2 separate regions of the Homo sapiens genome follow, and region 1 is linked to region 2. The links come from fine-mapping of genetic effects on gene expression. A gene starts in region 2. The other region holds a variant in brackets. All regions are shown on one strand. Distances are between the middles of the regions. Region 1 overlaps EXOSC7 (exosome component 7). Region 2 holds the start of EXOSC7 (exosome component 7).

What was found.
Region 1: its variant is fine-mapped to the expression of EXOSC7 in whole blood (TOPMed, PIP above 0.99). The same link has a PIP of 0.9 or more in T cells, blood mononuclear cells and monocytes.

Annotation. Positions count from the first base shown.
Region 1 is chr3:45,007,811-45,017,867 of GRCh38, forward strand. EXOSC7 (exosome component 7) reads left to right here. Exons shown (of 8, transcript NM_015004.4): 8 at 3,425-3,661. The coding sequence ends at 3,529. Among named protein-coding and RNA genes, the nearest start is that of CLEC3B, 13 kb to the right of the region's middle. RefSeq lists an enhancer at 4,284-4,403. The variant C/T (reference allele first, on the strand shown) is at 4,369.
Region 2 is chr3:44,969,042-44,979,462 of GRCh38, forward strand. It overlaps EXOSC7 (exosome component 7), which reads left to right and starts at 7,203. Exons shown (of 8, transcript NM_015004.4): 1 at 7,203-7,293. The coding sequence starts at 7,237. It overlaps ZDHHC3 (zDHHC palmitoyltransferase 3), which reads right to left and starts at 7,133. Exons shown (of 7, transcript NM_001135179.2): 1 at 6,892-7,133. RefSeq lists an enhancer at 6,113-6,657 and silencers at 6,880-6,979, 7,100-7,169.

The sequences.
Region 1 (10,057 bases), 39 kb after region 2:
TAAGTACCCCCCATCTCATTTCTATGTGTCTAAATAAGACTGTTGGACTTTCATAATGTAAAGAGCCACTCGTAACTCCAAAAGTGCAGGCCTTTGTGACTTGATGAGGGAATAGAATTCTTGGCTCACTGCTTCCTGTCCCTAGAAGTGGGTGAGTAAAGGTGGAAGCACGGGCTGAACTGTGGCTGTCTCCCAAATTCGTTACAGCTCTAGAAGTGTTTAAATGGAGACAAGCAGGGATGGTAAGAAATCTGACCCACTGGAGTTGGGTTGGGTTGCCCTCATCCCTAGCAGAGCCATCAAGGCGCTTCTACAGTTCTCTGTACTGTTTGCCCCACATGTCTGTCACCTCACTGGCCTGGAAGCCCCGCAGGGCAGGGACAGGGTCCTGCTCACCTGTTTCCCAGACCTTCTTTCCCCTATATCCACCTCACCTTTCTGACTGATTGACTGACTGAACTTCCAGGAACAGAGTTAGCAGGATCTGATTATTCATACTTTCTTGCAACCTCTATATCACCACACATGCCCAGAGATCATTGCTTAATAGCAAGCACTCTTCTTTTGTGTTTAGAAACAATGACTTCATACTGAAGAATCCAAGAACATGACATCTACTTTCTCTCTTTATCATGTTATTTAAAAGGCCAAAATGAGCACTGTATATAGCATGGAGTTCCCAACCATGGGCTGTGAGGGTGTACTGCCCTGGCTGCAAACCTGGCTCTGGGCCATAGTCCCCCTCATCTGCAAAGTGGGACTGATAATAGTAATATCTGCCCAGACACTGCTGAGGTTGTTATTAGGATGATGTGAGGTGTAGAGGAGAAGCACATGTCACAGTGCCTGATATGTCATCAGTTCTCAGCTAATGGCAGCTCTTATTCTCTGTGCTCCATGAAGCACCCTGAGTTCAAATTTCTCCAGACTTAATGCTGCATAAATTCTACCAAAGTCCTCTAGGCAAGGGACTGTCAAACCTTGTTTTAGAAGGTACTCTTCCCCCTCCCAGGAGAGTTTATGAGAATTTCTTTAAACAGCAACAACAAGCACAGTAAACAAATAGCTGGAGTTTATTGTGTGCGTACTATGTGCCAGATACTGTTTTCACTGCTTTAAATATATCATTTAGTCCTCAACAACCTGTGAGGTAACTATTATTATTGTCCTCATTTTTACAGATGAGGAAACTGAGGCACACAGAGGATAAGCAGCTTGCCTACAGGCCTCCCTGCTCATAAATACTGGAGCTAGGATTTAAGCCAAGACTGTGTGCGTCCAGAGCCCCTGCTCCCAGCCACTGTGCAATGTCAGCCTTATAAACCAGATCTGCCCTGGCTGTCATAGATGGCAGAACCAGAGCTCTGTTCAGTGAGCTGAGCTTTGTCCTCCCCTCAGGTTTGGGGAGTGAGGTCTGCTAACTCTGGACAGGGGACTATAGCTCTGTGGCCCTGTCTTACTGTTTATCTCACACAGGGATGCAGCAATCTGGAAAATGACTTGGTGGAGCTGAGAGCCTTGGGGGTAGTTGTGCAGGCTGCCACCCCTAGCCTCTGCAGTTGCTTTCCTGCATCTGGATTCAGAGGCGTCAAGGCCCTCTCAAGTCCTGGCATCCTGTCCATCTCATCTCCTCTTGTTGTCCTCTCTCCCCACCCTCATGTATATGAATAATCAGTACCCCTGTTTGACAGATTCAGACTTTTTTTTCTTTTTCTAATGTTATGGGAAAATCTTTCCAAAGGCCCTTTTTTTTTTTGAGATGGAGTCTCACACTATCGCCCAGGCTGGAGTGCAGTGGTGCGATCTCAGCTCACTGCAACCTCCGCCTCCCTGGTTCAAGTGATTCTGCCTCAGCTTCCCGAGTAGCTGGGATTGCAGGTGCCCGCCACCACTCCCAGTTAATTTTTTTGTATTTTTAGTAGAGACGGGGTTTCAGTATGTTTGCCAGGCTGGTCTTGAACTCCTGACCTTGTGATCTGCCTGCCTCAGCCTCCCAAAGTGTTGAGATTACAGGCATCAGCCACCACATCCAGCCCCCGAAGGCCTTTTTGACCTTTAACCCTGACTTTGCATTTCATAGAGGTGATCACTTCCCAGCCTTTTAGATCGAAATCATCTTTTCATAAGAGTTTTAGTCATACTTGGGATCTCATCCCATGTTACAGTTAGGGGCCAGGGGAGAAGACACACAAGTCATTACTCTGGGGAGGATACACCTGTAACTGAAGAGATTGAGGCAGGGATTTAGGCATGGATGTTTTTATCTCAACATTGTTGAGAATGGAACCAGTGGCAGAGTTGAATCCACACTGCTATGGGAATGTGAAAGACCTGATAAGGTAGAGATTTGTGGTTGGTTCTTTGTATTCTTAAAATGATTCTTGGGCCCAGAGACAGAATAACAGTTTCATAAAGAAAAATATATTTTTTTATATTGGGGTGGTGGTTGTTTTTTGAGACAGGGTCTTGCTCTGTTATCCAGGCTGGAGTACAGTGGCACAGTCACAGCTCACTGCAGCCGTGAACTCCTGGGCTCAAACAATCCTCCCATCTCAGCCCCCTGAGTAGCTGGGTCTACAGGCGCATACCACCATGCACAGCTAATTTTTAGTTTTTTGTAGAGATGGGGTTTCACTCTGTTGCCCAGTCTGGTCTTGATCTCCTGGCCTCAAGCAAAATCCTCTTGCCTTGGCCTCCAAAAGTGCTGGGATTACAAGCATGAGCCACTACTCCCAGCCATATTGAGTTTTTTTGTTTTGTTTTGTTTTTGTTTTTGTTTTTTTTACCTCTCGTGTCTGCTCTGTAGGGACTGATTATTAATTTTGTGGGTTGTCCCTCTTGATGTGTTTCGATTCTAACATTTCACTGCCTTTAGCATCTCAGCATGGCAGTAAACACCAAAGATCCCATCCAGGTACTGACTTTGGTCACACCTGAGCAGTTCTGCTTAGAGGCTTCATGGGAGGTGAATGAGAAGCTGCTTACTAAAATGTCCTTGGCATCATCTGTTTCTTCTCCAGACAGACTCTGGATTCCCTGTGGTCTCCCTATAGTACAGTGTCACCTGGCTGTACCCAAGCCCAGATTTGATTGACAACTTTGTTGCTTGTTGCAGTGGCAGCAGGATAGTGAAGCATGAGCTAATGGCCAGGGCAGGCTTTGCTGCTCTCTGTTTGTTGCCTGGTGGGGGCTGGTGTTTGTCTCTCTTTTTTATTTTTTTGATATGACGATTTTTACAAAATTTATTATGTTGTTGGGGTCTGTGGTTTTTGTTTTAATTTGCTTTAATTAAATAAAAGTCCTCTAAGGCAGATGGAATGTGTACAATGTCAGAAAGACTAGCTGGCAGAAAGGAATGCTTTTCTGGTCAGAGTGTGTGTGCCTTACAAGGGGGTGTGTGCTCTCTCCCGTCCCTTCTCCACAGACTGGCAAGCGTGTGGGCAAGGTACTGCATGCCTCCTTGCAGAGTGTTGTGCACAAGGAAGAAAGCCTGGGGCCCAAGAGACAGAAAGTTGGATTCCTGGGATGATTTGCACATCAACTGCTCAACTGTGGATTGTTTTTTACTTTTCCTTTTAAACCGGTTCGTATATATTTTTCTTCGCTGTTACGAATTTACAGCAGCATTTGTACATGTAAAATTAAAGGCTATTTTCTGGTCTGGTTTGGTATGTCTAGAGTTCTTCAGTTGAAGCCAAGGCACCATTCAGTGACCCATCTGGGTCTGGCCCTTATCTAGTGAGTGGCAGACAAATCCAGAGCTCTGCCACCAAGGGAGACCCCCACAAGCTGGAGTAAAGACCTGACAGAAACTGGTTTACAGGAAATGCTTATGATATGTATTTTGTGAATTTTTTTCCCCTTGAAGAACTTTAAAAATAAGAATCACAAAGAAAAGTTCATTCACCTTGTGTATTTGGGTGGTTCTGGGAGAGGAAAAAAGAGGAGGCACTCTGCTGCAGGTACACACCCAGGGCGTCTGTCTGTCTGGTTAGCCATCCCAAATCCTGGGAAAGTCCAGCTCTGACTTCCTGCCCTCCAAGAGATCCGAATGGAATTCCCTAGGTTCAGGGGCTTTAGTGGCAGCCACTTTGGCCCTTAGCCATCCTTTCTTATCACTCTTGTTTTGAAATTGCTTTGTGTTTTATAACCACTCCCTGGTGTTTCCTAAGATTTTGTTTTGTCAGCATTAAGAAGGCAGCTTTCAAGATGTTGTCATTTGATAATTCAGCTGCCTTCATGCTCTCAGCATTGAAAGGAAGACTATGCTTGCTGGCCCAGAAGGCTCTTCCTATAAGCCTGTAGTCTCACTGTGCAGTGTGTTAAAATTAAGTCTCTTCATGTGTAGAGCAGCCTTTGTTTTTTTTT[C/T]TAGGGGAACTGAAACTCCTAAATCTTAAAACACCCTGGGGAAGGAGCTGATTCACGAAGGAGAGCGTTTCAACCGTGGCATTTGCTCTCTGCATTCCAGTTAGCAAATGGGGTAAGGCGTTAGGAATTTATCACCAAATGGAAAGAACATAATGTGAGCTGAAGCCCTTGGGACTGCTTCCAGAGGTCCTGGTGTGGGCGTTCCTCCCAGCAAGGCCAGGTCCATCCCTGTGGAGAGAAGCAGCTGCCTAGACTTGGGCTTAATGGGGGAGCTTCTGCCCTGTTGAGAGCATAGCCTGGGTTTTCATCTTTTATGTTTCTTCAGTGACTATCTACAGGCACCATGACAGTGTTCCCAACAAGGCAGAAATCAGCCTGGTCTCTCCTTCCCTGCTCCTGGTTGACTGCCCGTGACATGACAAAACATTGGCAGTGGTGGCGCAGAGATGCAACTCGAGTGTGAATAAAGTTTAGAAGCATTTGCTTTTGATGGTTGATTCCAGTGGATCATTTTGAGATGCATAAATTAGAATGGGTACTGTCATATATGTCAGACTCAGCTCTGCTTCACTTCCCTTCAGACAGACAGATGAGGCTTTGCCATGCCAGTGGTATGACAAGCAGCTACCAGCTTGGATGGCTGGCTAAGCACTTCCAGTAAAAATGGAGAAAGAAGAGAAAAAGATGGTGGAATCTGTTTCTAGCCACCCCATACCTTTCCCTGAAGGCCACCCCTACATGTAATATACGTATATTGCAAATGAAACAAAACACCATATGAGCAGGGACTCTCCAGGAGAGGCATTTATTGGAAAGATCTGATTGTTGCAACTGTCAGAGTGAGAGAAGAGAAAACTGAAGACAGAGACTGGCAAAGACTTGGAAAAATATTATCCTGGGACAGACCTGTTTGATCCAGCAGAGCCACAGCTGTCTTTAGTGGTCTTTAAATAAACATTAGGTAGAAGAACATTGAAGTTGGTCAAAGTAAGGGCGGAGTATAAGAAATGCAATGTTAAATAATATTCAAGTGGGTTTTTGTCTCTGATTCTTTAGTCTTCCAAATCACGAGTTAATTTTTTTTCTTTTCTTTGTTCTTAGAGATAGGGTCTCACTCTGTCACCGAGGCTGGAATGCAATGGTGCAATCATAGCTCATTGCAGCCTCAAACTCCTGGGCTCATGTGATCTTCCCACCTTCCTGGGACTGCAGGCATGCCACCATGCCCAGCAAATTATTTTTTTAAAATGAGGGTCTCACTATGTTGCCCAGGCTGGTCTTGAGCTCCTGGCCTCAAGCAATCCTCCTGCCTTGGCCTCCTAAAGTGCTGGGATTACAGGTATGAGCCACTGCACTGGGACATGAGTTTAGATTTTTTTCTCGTTGTTGAGACGGAGTCTCGTTCTTTTGCCAGGCTGGAGTGCAGTGGCGTGATCTCACCCACTGCAGTCTCTGCCTCTCGGGTTCAAGCGATTCCCCTGCCTCACCCTACTGAGTAGCTGGGACTACAGGCGTGCACCACCACACCTGGGTAATTTTTTTTATTTTATTAGAGACAGGGTTTCACCATGTTGGCCAGGATGGTCTTGATCTCCTGACCTTGTGATCCGCCTGCCTCGGCCTCCCAATGTGCTGGGATTACAAGCGTGAGCCACAGCACCTGGCCGAGTTTAGAATATTAACAGTAGTTTGTTTGCTCAGTAAAGCCAGTTGTCTAACATACAAACTGCCAGTAGAGAATAAGTCTTCGCTATTCCAGACTTTTTGGAAAACAATCTGGCAGTGTGCATTAAAAGCCTTAAAAGACCGGGTGTGGTGACTCACGCCTGTAATCCCAGCACTTTGGGAGGCTGAGGTGGGCGGATCATGAGGTCAAGAGATCGAGACCATCCTGGCCAACATGGTGAAACCCATCTCTATTAAAAATACAAAAATTGGCATGGTGGCACACGCCTGTAATCCCAGCTACTTGGGAGGCTGAGGCAGGAGAATTGCTTGAACCCAGGAGGTGGAGGTTGCCGTGAGCCAAGATCGCGCCACTGCACTCCAGCCTGGCTACAGAGCGAGACTCCTTCTCAACAAAAAGCCTTAAAAATGTTTGCCCTTTGACCTAGTAATTCTACTTCTGGGCATGTAATCAAAGTAAATAATTTATGATACAAGGGGAGTGGAAACATTAATACAGAGGAGTTTATCCCAGTGTTATTTATACATCCCAAATAATGGCCATAAAGTAACTGCTAGTTAGTGGGGAAACAATGTTCCATGCATTGCTAGATGCCTCTGATGGATTACCTTCTGTCCTCAGCCTCGCCTCTGCCTCTACGGCAGTCAGACCGTAGCTAATAGATTATGTGTTCTGAGGGTTAAGACATGGGCAGCCAATCAGGATTTTACTCAACTTGTCAAAATTAAAAATAATAATAATTGGAGCATAAAAAGCTTATGTCAACCACTATAATGGGAAATTCCAGTCCTTCACCCAGTTTCCGTAAGCCAGTTCACAGATCAAAGTCCATTGACAGGAGGGAGGTTGGTGTCTTTAAATAAGAATCCTGTAATATCACCATCAGCACCTACAATAATAGTTCTCCAGTCTGGAATACCAGCATTGAGGAAAGGTGATTTGAAGCCTTTTGAATCTGGGTTTTGACTTGATGCCTGTATTAGGAGACCTGAAATGCCACCAAGGCTCTCCAGTCAAAGGGGATGGGGGATGGAGGCTAGGTAATAAATGGATGGTACAAGTAAGTCTGGCTCACAATGGTCATTAGGTCCTGGGATAATTTCCTTCCCCAAATGTGTAGGTGGGATGGATGTGGTACAATTGAGATGTCATAAATGGGATGGAATGAAAACCACAATGGTAAGAAGGGTCAAGGTTGGAAACTGCCTCCCTTCCCTGGCCAAGATAATAAATCAGAGACAATATTGGATCTTGGGAGAAATTGCAGAGATTAGGACCAACATCAAAGACTTTAAGGATGCAAGGGTAGTTGTCCCCGCCTCATTGCCATTTATCTTATCTCTGTGGCCCCTGTAAAAGCCAGGTGAATCATGGTAGATGACCACCAAACACACGAGAGAGCTCCAATTTCCACTGCTTTGTTGGATGAAGTATCTTCACTAAGATTAATCAGCACAGCCTCCAATGCTTCGTATGTGGCTATAAGTTAGGAAAATTCTTCCTTAATCCCCATTAACAAGAAGGGTCAAAAGCAGATCTCTTATGTGGAAGGACTGCAAAATGTGTTCAGTGTCTTGTCAGCGGTCTATGTTAATCACCTACTTTTTGTCACAGTGATATCTTCAGGGCCATCGCGCTGATCTATTTATGTTGATAAAATCATGTTTATTAGATCTAGTACATAGGACGTGGAAAGCCGTTGGAAGTCCTAGTAAAAGACACATGCCTGAGAGGGTGGGAAATAAACCCCATGAAGATTAAGGAGACCACCACACTGATAATGTTTTTAGGTATCCAGTGGTGTGGGGCATTCTGAGAGATACCCCCTCTAAGGTGGTAGATTTTGAACCTTGCACCCACCCTCATCCCCACTACCCTCACTGAGAAGTACAGCACTTGTTGGGCCTCTGGATTTTGGAGACAAGAATGCTGTACTTGAGAATGCTGTCTCAATGCATTTATTGAGTAATTCACAAACCTACCAGTTGTGAATGGGAGTCCAGAATAAGACAGGACTCTGAAGCCTGTTTAAGCTGCATTACAAGCATCCCTCCTGCTCCATGTGACCCAGAAATTCCAACGGAGCTAGTGCTATCTGGGGCAGGTAAGGGTGCTGTGTAGTTTCTGGCAGGCCCAACAGGAACGTTGTAGCACAGACCCTAGGATTCTGGAGCAAGGCCATGTGGTGGAAAGCTATTCACCTCCAAATGAGTGAGTTTGAAAAGAAGTTTCTGGCTTGCCACTGGGCCCAATTAGAGACTGAATACCCAACCCTGGGACCTCAAGTGACCTGAGCCACCCATCATGCTGGTTATTGTCAGACCCACCAGGTCATAAGTTTGGGTGGGTGCAGCAACAATCCATGCAACATGAAAATGTACATTCAGGATTAGGCCTGAGCAGTTCAGTGGGCACAACCAAGGAATATACCAGGTAGCCCAGATTCGTCTGTCACCCCTGTTCGCCAGTGCCTCTCATCCACACTTATGACCTCATGGGGGAGGGGACTCCTGCAGCCAGCTACTGGAAGAGGAAAACCCCAGGTCTGCCTTGTGGATGAGTTGGTTCTCTATATTGATGTGTGCCCCAAAGGGACTGCTCCTGCATTACAGCCCTGCAGGACAGCAGTGAGAGAACTGAGTGCAGCCAGTGCACTTGGTTGTTAAGTTTGCACAAAGGGATAAGGGTACACGTGGATTCCCGGATAGTAGGGAGTAACTTGGCTAGTTGGACAAGGGCCTGAAAGGAGTAAGATGGGATGATCAGAGAAAAGGGATTTGTATGGACCTGTGGGAATGGGCCAAAAAAAGCGCAGATAGTCGGGAATCGTGTTAATGCCCATCAGAGGACATTTTCCAAGGGAGGTGTTCAACAAGTGTTTTGACTTCAGTTCTGGGTAGGATATGTAGGTCATGGTGGACCACCATTCATGCTGCTGCAGCTAAAAATGCTGAATGCATTTCAAGAGTCATATCATTAAAGATTTTGGGAAGCTCTGGAAGTAAAGAGGATTTCATGGCCTAAAATTCCAGAGAAGGGGGAGACTTTCTGAAGTGAGCAGGCTGTCACTGGCATTTCCTTCCCTGGGGGCATTTGCAGATTCTGGACGTGGAATAAGAATCAGGCTTGGGAACATAGAGGAACTCTACCGGGGAAAGGGAAACCTGCAAAACCTCCAGCAAAGCTGTGTAGGGATAGTGTGATGATTTAGAAACTCAAAGATCCCTAAACACACAGCTGGGTTTATATTTGCCAAATTCTCAGACATGATGGGAAGTCAGGGAGTTTCAGCTAAAGAAGATTGAAATCTCCTGTAGCATTCTATAGGGCTATCTGTTTTTCTCCTCTTGTGTGAACTATTATAGCTGAGGGCATCAGGTAAGTGCATGCCCAGTTTATTATTCCCAAAGTTACAAATCAGGTGATTAAGTTACTGTCCCTTGGAGTGGAAGGAATCGAGGTGTGGAAAGAGGCTATCAAGCTCCTTGACACACTGGGACAGCGTGGTGGCTCAGACCACCCCTCCTCCTTCCCACAACCTTGCAGGTTGCTCAGCTGTCTCCCATGCGAGACCTCAGTTTGCTCCTTGAAAGAATCCCATGTGCAAGCAGGGTAGAGATTATTACCCCACTTTACAGAAGAGGAGTTTGGTCTTGAGTAACTCATCCAAAACGACACAAGTGCCAGGTATCTCAACCAAATTTGGAACTCGGGACTCCATTCTCTTTCCACTGCCACACTACAGAGCTTTAAGGATAAAACAACAAGGACTGTGAGCCCCTTGAGAGCTAAGATTTGGTTGAGTTAGGACCTACCTAACTCAGGGCCCGGTACACAGGGACAGAGCCAATACTTGAATGAATGACAGAGTACTAGGCCAACAAAGTTTTTTTTTTTTTTTTTCTTAGAGACAGGGTCTTGCTCTGTTTTCCAGGCTGGAGTGCAGTAGTATGATCATAGTTCACGGCAGCCTCCATCTCCTGGGCTCAAACAATCCTCCCA
Region 2 (10,421 bases):
TTGTAAGCCAGCAGGAGCATCTTCATAAAGGCAACAATAAATGACTGCTCCAGCTACCCAATGAACACTTGCCGATGACGGTGATACTCTCATAGTTTGTGAACCCCTTGTAATCCAGTGCATGATCTCATTTGACAATGAACTGCCTTCTGGCCTCTGTGAGGGTAGGCTCCAGTTCTGCTTGATTGTTGCCAAAGTGTGGGATATGCTGAATGTAGGGTGGGGCCCTGATTCTTTCCTGACCCTCACTTAAGGTGTCACCACTGCCTCCATCAGGGCACTGGGCTGCTTGCTACACATGCCTCTTCCTGTTTGATTCTCACATCTACTCTATTTTGCACATATAAATGCCCACTTCCCCATCCTGCTTTTAGAAACGAGAAAACTGAAGCATGCCTACAACCATACTTCCAGGAAGTGGTGGAGACAGGATATACTCCCAAAGTCTGCTCTTGCCCCAGGGCTTGCTTTTCACTACTTACTACAATAATTAAATTTTGTCTAGTAACTAGAAAATAAAAGGGGGAGGAGTATTGATGTTTCCATCAGTGACCTTGGGTTACTTACGGTTTGGCTATCTTGTCCACACATGGTTATGCAGAGGTGGCATTATCGAGTGGGCTGCATGCAGTGGTGCTCACAGGCCACAGGCCTGAACATAAGCATTTTGGGCTCTAAGGTGGGGCCCTGGCTGAATACCAGCCAACATTTAGAATACCGATCCTGCCCTAACCTAGGAGGCAGGAAGGCCGTGAAGCCTCAGCCAGAAGAGTCACCTAGGATTGAATCCCTAAAATCTGCTTTGGCTGGGAAATACTTCCTGTGGTGCCAAGTAACAGAATGCTGCTTTTTGTGAGAAAAAACGCCTCCCCCCATGCTAGGCAGAGACCTATCAGCAAAGGTTCCCACCTGAGGATGTTGAGAATGACACCTGGGCCCACATTGTGTCATGTGCAGCCACACAGCCACTGTGACATCACTTAGGCTAGGCCAGAGCTTGGTTGTTTTTAGGGACTAAAAGCAAAAGTGCTTAGAGAAATCCGAAAGACTAGCTAGGGAAGGGAGAGAACCAGTTATTGCAACTGTACTAGGTACTAGGGCCTAAAAAGGGGAGCCATTTGACTTTCAGGAATCTGCTGGTATCACTTATTCCAGGCACTGTAAGTGGCAGTGCAAGAGCAGAGCCCTGGGAGGAACCTGGGACCACAGAAAGAAGGCTGTAATGGGCTGTGAGAAAGAGAACACAGCCCCTGCTTACCTGGTGAGGGGCTCTCCAGCCATTCACCAGAGGGCTTTGGAAATAGATGGGAGGCTAGTGCTAAAGGGAATGAAGACTGAGCTTGGAATCAAGAGGCCAGAGTTTACTCCCAATCCTGCCACTCGCTAACCTCATGATCTCAGGCAAGACAGTTACCATTCTGGGCCTCAGTTTCCTCATTTGATAAAACAAAGGGGAAGATCACGCTGATTGCTAGGGCCCCTTGCAGGGCTGAGATTCTATGAGTCCTCTGTTCTCAGGAGCAAATTCAACGTTTTCTTTGTTAATATCTTGGATTTTACATTTTTTTACCAAAAGCTTCACTTACCTCTTTTCCCGATTTGCTAATATTCAAAAAGAAGCCCACTAGTAACTATCTCTCTTAGCAATTTCCTGAGCATGTTTAGTTTTTTCAATCAAGTACAGCATAAAATTACGACTTCCTTTTGTTCATTTAATTTTTTTCAGAGTGGAAAAAGCACTAGCAAAATATATCAAGTATAATGAAGTGGTAAATGAAAGAAGTCTTAAAAACCCCAATTTAAACATGGTCATTTTTCAATATTCAAATATTTGCATATCCAGGATCCATTCTGAGTTTAAAAACCTGGCAAGATACTCACTTGAGGGCAAAATGAGACTTAGGTTAACTGACTTGTTCAAAGTCATAAAGCAAGTTAATAGCAAAGCCCAAATCTTTGGACTAAGATGCCCGGAAGTCTTTCTACCATAGATTGTTATCTTCCTAAACAACCTGTCTTTCTAGATTCTCTGCTACTATTTCTTGGTTTAGAAACATACACTTCACATACTGAAGACTTTACTGCAACAGGACTGTGGCCAGAACTGTACTTGTCTCATTAGGCTTACCTTGCTAAGGTAAGAAAGTGATCTCACTCAAAGGCATTGCATCTCCACTGACCTTGAATAGGAAATACATATTCATATCTTGCCAAGAGTTCAAGTGCCAAGTCAATACATACTACGAAGTCTATGGTTTGGAGGAGACTATGAAATGATGACATTTCCCATGCATTCCAAATGTATTAGGATGTATGACTGAATTAAGTGGGACATGCACCTGGAGCCTTCTCACCTTCACAGTTGACAGCCATGAATGAACTGGCCATTTGTCTCTGGAAATCTGCTTCCGAGGAGGAAAGCAAATGATTTTTTAAAATGCAAAACAGGAAGGAACTAAAGGCAGCATGGCATGAGCCTCATTTTTTCCCCAACAGGTCAACACTGAGACATCACCCCTCCACTTCTACTTGAGACTTTGTTACTTTCCATGGCTATCAGGGTGTGTGTGTTTAAATATTTCTACATTTGGTAAGCAGGATCTGTTACCCCCTTTTCTCAAATATGCCCTAATGAGACATAGGAAACATGCTGTCACTCTCCCAAAATGAAACACACATGAAGACTGTATAACTTTTCCTCTAATTAAGAGTAAGCTTTACCCATGTATTACTAGCAATTTTTCTATCACTGTAATCTCAAGTTACAATGTCTAGAAGACAGATGAAGACCTGCTGGCCAGACTATGACAGTATTCTTTACAGATATTCTTCATTTCTATCATTATTTTATTACTTATTTTATTATTTTTTAGCGATGGGGTCTATGTTGCCCAGGCTGGACTCAAACTCCGGGGCTTAAGGGATCCTCCCACCTCATTCTTTTAAGACAAGGTACAGGCGGGACAAATGCAAAGTGTTTAAAGGAAACAGATCTACAGGCAAAACGGTAACTGACTTTGTACATTTCAAGGGTGCTGGGCTAATGGTGAAAATGCAAAGGAAAAGGCCTAAAACATGGCCATGTCTGCTTAGGACTGGGAACAGAAGGTTTCCTGCTGGGCTTTTAAGAGCTCTCTATGGCTGGGCATGGTGGCTCATGCCCATAATCACAGCACTTTGGGAGGCCAAGGCAGGCAGATCTCTTGAGGCCAGGAGTTCGAGACCAGCCTGACCAACATGGCCAAACCCAGTCTCTACCAAAAATACAAAAATTAGCCGGGAGTGGTGGCACACACTTGTAATCCCAGCTACTCGGGAGGCTGAGGCACAAGAATTGCTTGAACCCAGGAGGCGGAGGTTGCGGTGAGCAGAGATTGTGCCACCGCACTCCAGCCTAGACAACAGAGCAAGACTCTGTCTCCAAAAAAGCTCTCTGCAACATCAGCACCACAGACTCAGCATTGCCCTGAAGCTCTTTTGTAACTGGCTTTTATTGGTTTAATTAACCAAGGATGGGTGGGACAGAGTTACTCCATCTCTGTCATGTTATTGTTGCCGGCTTGTGGCTAGCAGCAGCTCTTTACCTTTTGTATTTGATACCTGGCCTGCACAATTAGCACCTTATTATAGGCTGGCCTCTCTTCTAATTGCCACGTCTCAATTGAGCACTTTATTTTATTGTCTTGTTCATGCAGTAGTTCGAGGTCCTGGGCTCCCCCACTATAATAAATTCTAAACTACTTTTAGGCAGGTGTTGTGTTTTGAGTTTATCTCTTTATGCCCATAAGAACACCAGGGACTCACAGGCATGCAAACACACTGTCTGGAGTTTCTAGATATCTGAGTATGGCATACGGTTGGAATCTGGGTCTCCATGCATGCTACTCAACCCTAGTACCAGATCTATCAGCCATCTTTGCCATTGAGGGCTCTCTCCTTAGCTACTTGGAGTTAAGCTCTTATTCTGCTCATATATAACCTTTTACCTTGTTTAAAATATTGGGTTGCAACAGACACAGCAACATCCCATCAGCACCACATTCCATGTTCCTCTAGAAAAATGATTCAAGGGATATGAGTTTATGCTTGAACAGACTTCTTGCTTTTGGAATTAAGATTAACTATATAGTTCATAGGACAGTTACCAACGCCATAACAAAATTGGGATTTCCTTCACCAAATAATCTGGTGAATGTAATAAAACCTGGGGGGAGGCTGTGTAAGGTGATGGTTAGGAGTATGGGCAGGAGAGCTAGACTGCCTGGTCTCAAGTCCTGGTTCTGCCATTTACCAATGATGTAACCTGTGACCCTGGTTAAGGCATTTAACCTCTCTGTGCCTCATTTCCCAATCTGTAAAATAGGGATAAGAATACTTGCATCACAGGGCTGTTGCAAGGATTGAATCAGTTATTTTTTATTTTTATTTTTTTTTGAGATGGAGTTTCGCTCTTGTTGCCCAGGCTGGAGTGCAATGGCGTGATCTCAGCTCACTAAAACCTCCGCCTCCTGGGTTCAAGCGATTCTCCTGCCTCAGCCTCCCGAGTAGCTGGGATTGCAGGCATGCGCCACCATGCCCGGCTGATTTTGTATTTTTAGTAAAGATGGGGTTTCTCCATGTTGGTCAGGCTGGTCTCAAACTCCCAACCTCAGGTGATCCACCGGCCTCGGCCTCCCAAAGTGCTGGGATTACAGATGTCAGCCACCGCACCTAGCCTGGTTAATCTTTATAAAGTGCTTAGAACAATGCTTGGCATACAATAAGCACTATGTAAATTAGTGTTGAAAATTAGAGTATAAGGTTTTAGAATACACAAACCTACAGAATAGTATGCCCCAATTCATTTATTCATTCAATAAATGAATCTAATAGTGATGGAAAAACAAGACGGTTTAATACTGTGCCATCCTTGACTTCTTGATTTTTTTGGTTATCATATGTTCTTTGAATTACTTCAATACACTAAAAAAGAACTCAGAATTTATGGATTTTAAAGACGTCCAATGCACTATTACAGCAAAGGTGATAAAAATGTTCTGGCAGCATTTAAGCCGAATGATTAGTGAAGACTGTCATTGTTTTAGTAGACAATTTAAAAAGGAACATTCTACTGTTTACATCTCTCTTACCTACTTAGCCTAATATATAAGACATCGTTCATAACATTATTTAGCAAATACTGCAGACCCTTGTCCAGTATGGAATTCCCGTCAATTGTGAGGGGGGGACAGTTCAAATACATGTTCTATATTTTAAGACATTGGAAAATCTTTATATAAAGATAACTCCATGGTATCTGAACTCAGGCTTTTCTTCCTGTGTCTTTCTGATCTGTCCATTTGCTGTCACCTCTTAAATCCTCAGTCTCCTCAGATATCCTAGCTTCTAAAATCCCACTTCCAGGGTCTCTCCTTTCTGAGCAATCTCTAGCACATCTAGAAAATATCATTTATAACATCAGCAATCTCATGTTATCTTATCACAACAGAGCTCCTCACATAAAACCCAGCCGTCCAACCACACACAAACACATCTAAGTGCCACAACAGGTGGGGCACCTGTGCCTTCATTAGGGAGGAAATCCTTCCGGCTTCACCTCTTTCAGTTTCCCTGGAAGGCAAAGTCCAACCCTGCAAGCTGTCTTCCTTTTAGGTGCCCCTGTGGAGAATTACGTAGAGACATAAGAAACATCTAATGTCCAGTCTACGAAGAACTGATCATCAATTTTGGAGCTCAGCAGTTTAATGCTTAAGAATGTGAGCAAGCACTTCCTCTCTATAACCTTATCAGACGACCTCCCAATCCCACTGTGCCCACTGATGCGACCATCATAGCTCTAACCACCATGATCTGTGGTTATGTTGGCCCTGGAGCCTTCATCTGCCCAGGGAACTTCTCTGGGCATAGTATGTTTTACTTGTCTTGTGTTCTAAAGGTAGCACAAAGCCTATCTATAGTAGGCTCCCAATAGTTATCTGAAACTGTATTTGAACCCACTATCTGATAAATACCATTTTTTTTTTTTTTTGGCTGAGGGTCCTCAAAAATGGAACATCAGGAAAGTCATCAGAATTGCTTTAACCTGCCCTCCTTGCTTCAACTAATTTGGGTTAACTTTCTCCCATTTATCCACACGGCTCCTTTAAAACTTGCACCATACTTTGTCAGCCCCGCCTTAATGAGTTCCTTTGGTGACCCCAGCTTCACCTTGCAGATATCCTCTCCGGGTATCCAATGCCCATACTCCCACTCGGCCATCGCAAGGGGTTGGGGTTGGCTTTTTTTCGGGCAACTGCTCACAGCTCCCAGTAATCACTTCCATCAAGCCGGGGTTTCCAGTTCCCGCTAGGAAGCGTTGGGGACGTCCGGGCACTGCGCACCTCGCCAGTGCCGGTTACCAAGCGCCTCCTCCCCCGTCTGTGGGACAACGCTCTGGTAAGCACCCGAGGCAAGAGGTCCCAGCAAGGTAATGGGACAGCGTTCGGTCACAGAGAGTGAGCGAGCCAGCGAGAGATATTCCTGGGTGGAGGGGTGGGGACGCCTTAGGACTAGTGTCCCCCATTCCCGGACCCTTCCCACCAAGAACTACCTAGGGAGGGCTGCATCGCCTCTCCAGCCATCCTAGGGACTAGAGAAATGGAGGGGAGAAGAGCAGGGAAACAGCACCCCCGGGCCAATCACGACGTCCGCCCCTCCTTAGTCGGGGTCTCTCTCTCTCTCTCTCTCTCTCTCACACACACACACACACACACACACACACACACGCTCCTAAGTCAACTCCAGCTCTGAGCAACTACGCCGCACGCCTCTCCCACTGGGAGTCCCCCGGCCCGTGAGGCTCGCCTCACCCCAGCTTCTTCACCCCTACCCCAGTTTCCCTTCCCAACTGACCGTGAAGCCGGAGGCAGTTCCCCAGTCCCAGACCCCGGTGGGGCTCCCGCCGCCGCCGCCGCTGCCTTCCCCTGCAGTCCCCAACCCGGGACCCGGCCTCGGGCTTCGGCGATGGCTCCTCGGAACGAGGCGCCGCGGCTCTCTGGACTCGGCCAGACACCGGGCGGCGCGCAGGAGAAGCCCATCGAGCTCTCCCGGCAGTGGCGGCGGCCGCGGCTGCAGGAGCGGCCGCCGCGCAGGTTGATGACGCGCTGACGCGGGGCGGGGGGGGGTGGGACGTGGGGGCGCGGTCCAGAGGAGGGGACGCGCGCAGATGACGTGCGGCTCGTGGGGCAGCTCGGCAGCATGGCGTCCGTGACGCTGAGCGAGGCGGAGAAGGTGTACATCGTGCATGGCGTCCAGGTAGCTACAGCAGCGGCGTTGGGTCGGCCGCCGGGTTCAGCCTGGCCCTGCGGGTCGCGGCCTGCCCTGGGTTTGCCAGTGAGGAGGCAGCCGAGCTGCGGCGACTCTCCGTTTACCTTGTGATTAAACGGTTCTGCTGCCGGCGTTTGCAATTCAGAGCTGGCAACGTGGACGTTTTTAGGACTGTTAGCGCATTTGCAGTTTTGCGGGTCTATAAGATTCCGAACCCGGGCAGGAAGCTTGGGCAGTCTCGGAGGCCTTTTCTTAGTGAGAGAGCATCGGCCCCAGGGCCATCCATTCGGCGTTCGCGCACAGATCTTGTCCGAGCCTCAGTTTTCTCTTCGAGGAAATGGGAGTTTGGAGGTGGGCTTCTGGCCTGCTTTTCCTCACCTCGTGGTTAGGAGGGCGCATGCGAGGTGAACGCACTTTGAAAATACAAATTGCCGTACAAATAAAGGGGGAAGGGTTTTTAAAAAGCGGCTAGGACGCCTGTAATCCCAGCACTTTGGGAGGCCGAGGCGGGCGGATCACGAGGTCAAGAGACCGTCCTGACCAACATGGTGAAACCCCGTCTCTGCTAAAAATACAAAAAAATTTAGCTGGGCGTGGTGGCGCACGCCTGTAGTCCCAGCTACTCGGGAGACTGAGGCAGGAGAATCGCTTGAACCCGGGAGGCGGAGGTTGCAGTGAGCCGAGTCTCAAAAAAAAAGCGGCTAGGCAGCCGATAGCCTAAGTGCTGTTTCCATTTTGCCAATGAAGAACTAAGATCCCTAGGCAGCTATAACCTAATGTCCTCTGTGTTCTATATTAAATCCCTGGTTATGACCACTCCAGAACGAGGGTTGAAAAATGTTGGACCTGGTAACGAGCTACCCTGTATCCTCCTCCGGCTGTGTCTCCACTTGTTAACCTACGGTGTGGTCCTCCTATCAGAGTTCTTCATCCCATCCTTGGCAGAGTTCTGGCGACAGCTCCTACCTCTTTTCCTCATGCCTTTCCTCTGTCAGTACCAACTGCAAAGTCAGTGGTCCCGTGATGTAGCCATCGGATTGAAGCGGCCAGCTATCATTGAAGTCCCACAACGTGAGTTAAGGACATGTCCATTTAAAAATCGTGACCTGCCGTTATCTTCTGGGCCCTTTATATATGAAGAAATGCCAATATTTAGCATATTATGCCTGGATAATAAAGTCAGAACTCACAGTTGCATATTTTAGTTATAATTCAGGATTAACAACAGTGGGACATATGTGTGTATTACAGGGTAACATGTATGTTATTTGTGTGTGAGGGGGCATAAAAATGCCCAAAAGCAGTTAGATATGTCTTTCCCTGCTATATTTTTGTATACACTTTGTTCAGGTGATTTTTATCCTCAAAGTATTTTTTTAGGGACACATTACGGATAACCGTTTTCCTCTAAATTTAAAAACCTTTGGTCTTCTTTGTTACCGGAGCTTACCATGATGTAGTGACTCTGTCATGTGTCCTATTTTCTCTCAACATTTCATCCCTGAAAGTGGCACTGAGGCATGGATATATCTGTAACCTCAAGGTTAGAGCTTTCTCCCCAGCACCCTTAATTCCCACGGCAGTTCATTAGCTATCCAGCAGCAGAGTCCCACCATGGTCATTAGTTAATTTTATTTACCAACATATATCTAGCTCCTGGCATGTTATGTGGGAAACAGCAGGGATGCCAAAACATGGTTGTGAAATAAATGAAAGATAGGAGGGAGACAAACAGAGAGTAAAAGTGAATAAAATAAAAACAAAGGTAATGTAAGATCTATGCCAAGGAAGTGGTATAGTTAGTGGAGGTTGAAGTTAAAGTATACCAGGGGCCGGGCATTGTGGCTCACGCCTGTAATCCCAGCACTTTGAAAGGCTGAGATGGGAGGATTGCTTGAGCCTAGGAGTTTGAGACCAGCTTGGGCAACACAGTGAGAGCCCATCTCTAAAGAAATAATTTTTTTTTAATAAATAAAAAGAATTCCAGGGACTTGTAATGCTCTGAAGGCTTCCCTAAGGAGGTGGAATTGCTCCCCTAAATCCATGTCAAGGATTCCTCCTCTGTATCTTCAGGACTCAGTATTCATTCATTCAACACAGAACTGAGCTAGACTCAGGGGCTAGGAAGGAACCTGTCCTTATATAGCTCTCATGCTAGAAGGAAGATGCAGAAACTATAAATGTACTTGAGTGTTTATATATAAAATTGTACTGAATGCTATGAAGGAAAAAACGGACACGATCTAGACTGGGAGGTCAGAGGAGGCTTCCCTAAGGAAATAGCATTTGAACTGAGTTCTCAGCATGACTGAGAATTAAGTAGGCACCAGTGTTCCAGAAGGAAGGGGTGGTGAGTCTGTAAATCCTCAGGTGGAGGACATGTGGAGCCCAAGGGGTGGGCTGGGGGAAATGGTGGAAGATCAGCTTGCAGAGGTGGCCAGAAGCACGATCCTAGAGGTCTTAGAGGTTCAGTCATTCGCTCATCATGGATCTTGGAAGGCAATAGCCTGTTGACTTGTCTGTATGGGGGACCCTTAAGGCATAGCCAGTGTCTAGCACTTGGTAGGTTCTTAGTAGCATTGAATGGGTGATGTAAGCTTTAAAGGGGGAATGAGTTGGATGGTGTTTTTATTTTTTAAATTAAACCTCCCTCTCACCAGTACCATGGACATATTTGGGCACAGTTGTTGGTAAATGCTCAGCTCTGTGTATCACAGAGCCATGCAGAGTAATGGGCTTCAAATCAACGTCTTCATAAGGGCTTATTAATGTTGGCCCAAAATATGCCATATGTATAGAGGAGCAAAACACAATTTACACCATCCAAATAAAGGTCAGGATGCAGGTGAATGAGCCTACCATGGAATCTCAACTGATTCAGTTCTGAAATCTCCTAAACTTTTGTTGCGTTGGTTATAGAGTGCCGGCAGTGCACCTTAAGCAGTGCCTGCCTGAACTCCTGTTGCTTGTATAGTCCTAGTCATTTTGTGTTTTACTTTTCACCTTTGGTCCAGTAACGTCCATTTCAGCTTCTGATGTCACTTTCCCTTCAGCCTTTGGTTCTTTTACTATTTCAGGGAATATTTCATCTTGTTTTGGTGATAGTTAGAAGCAGT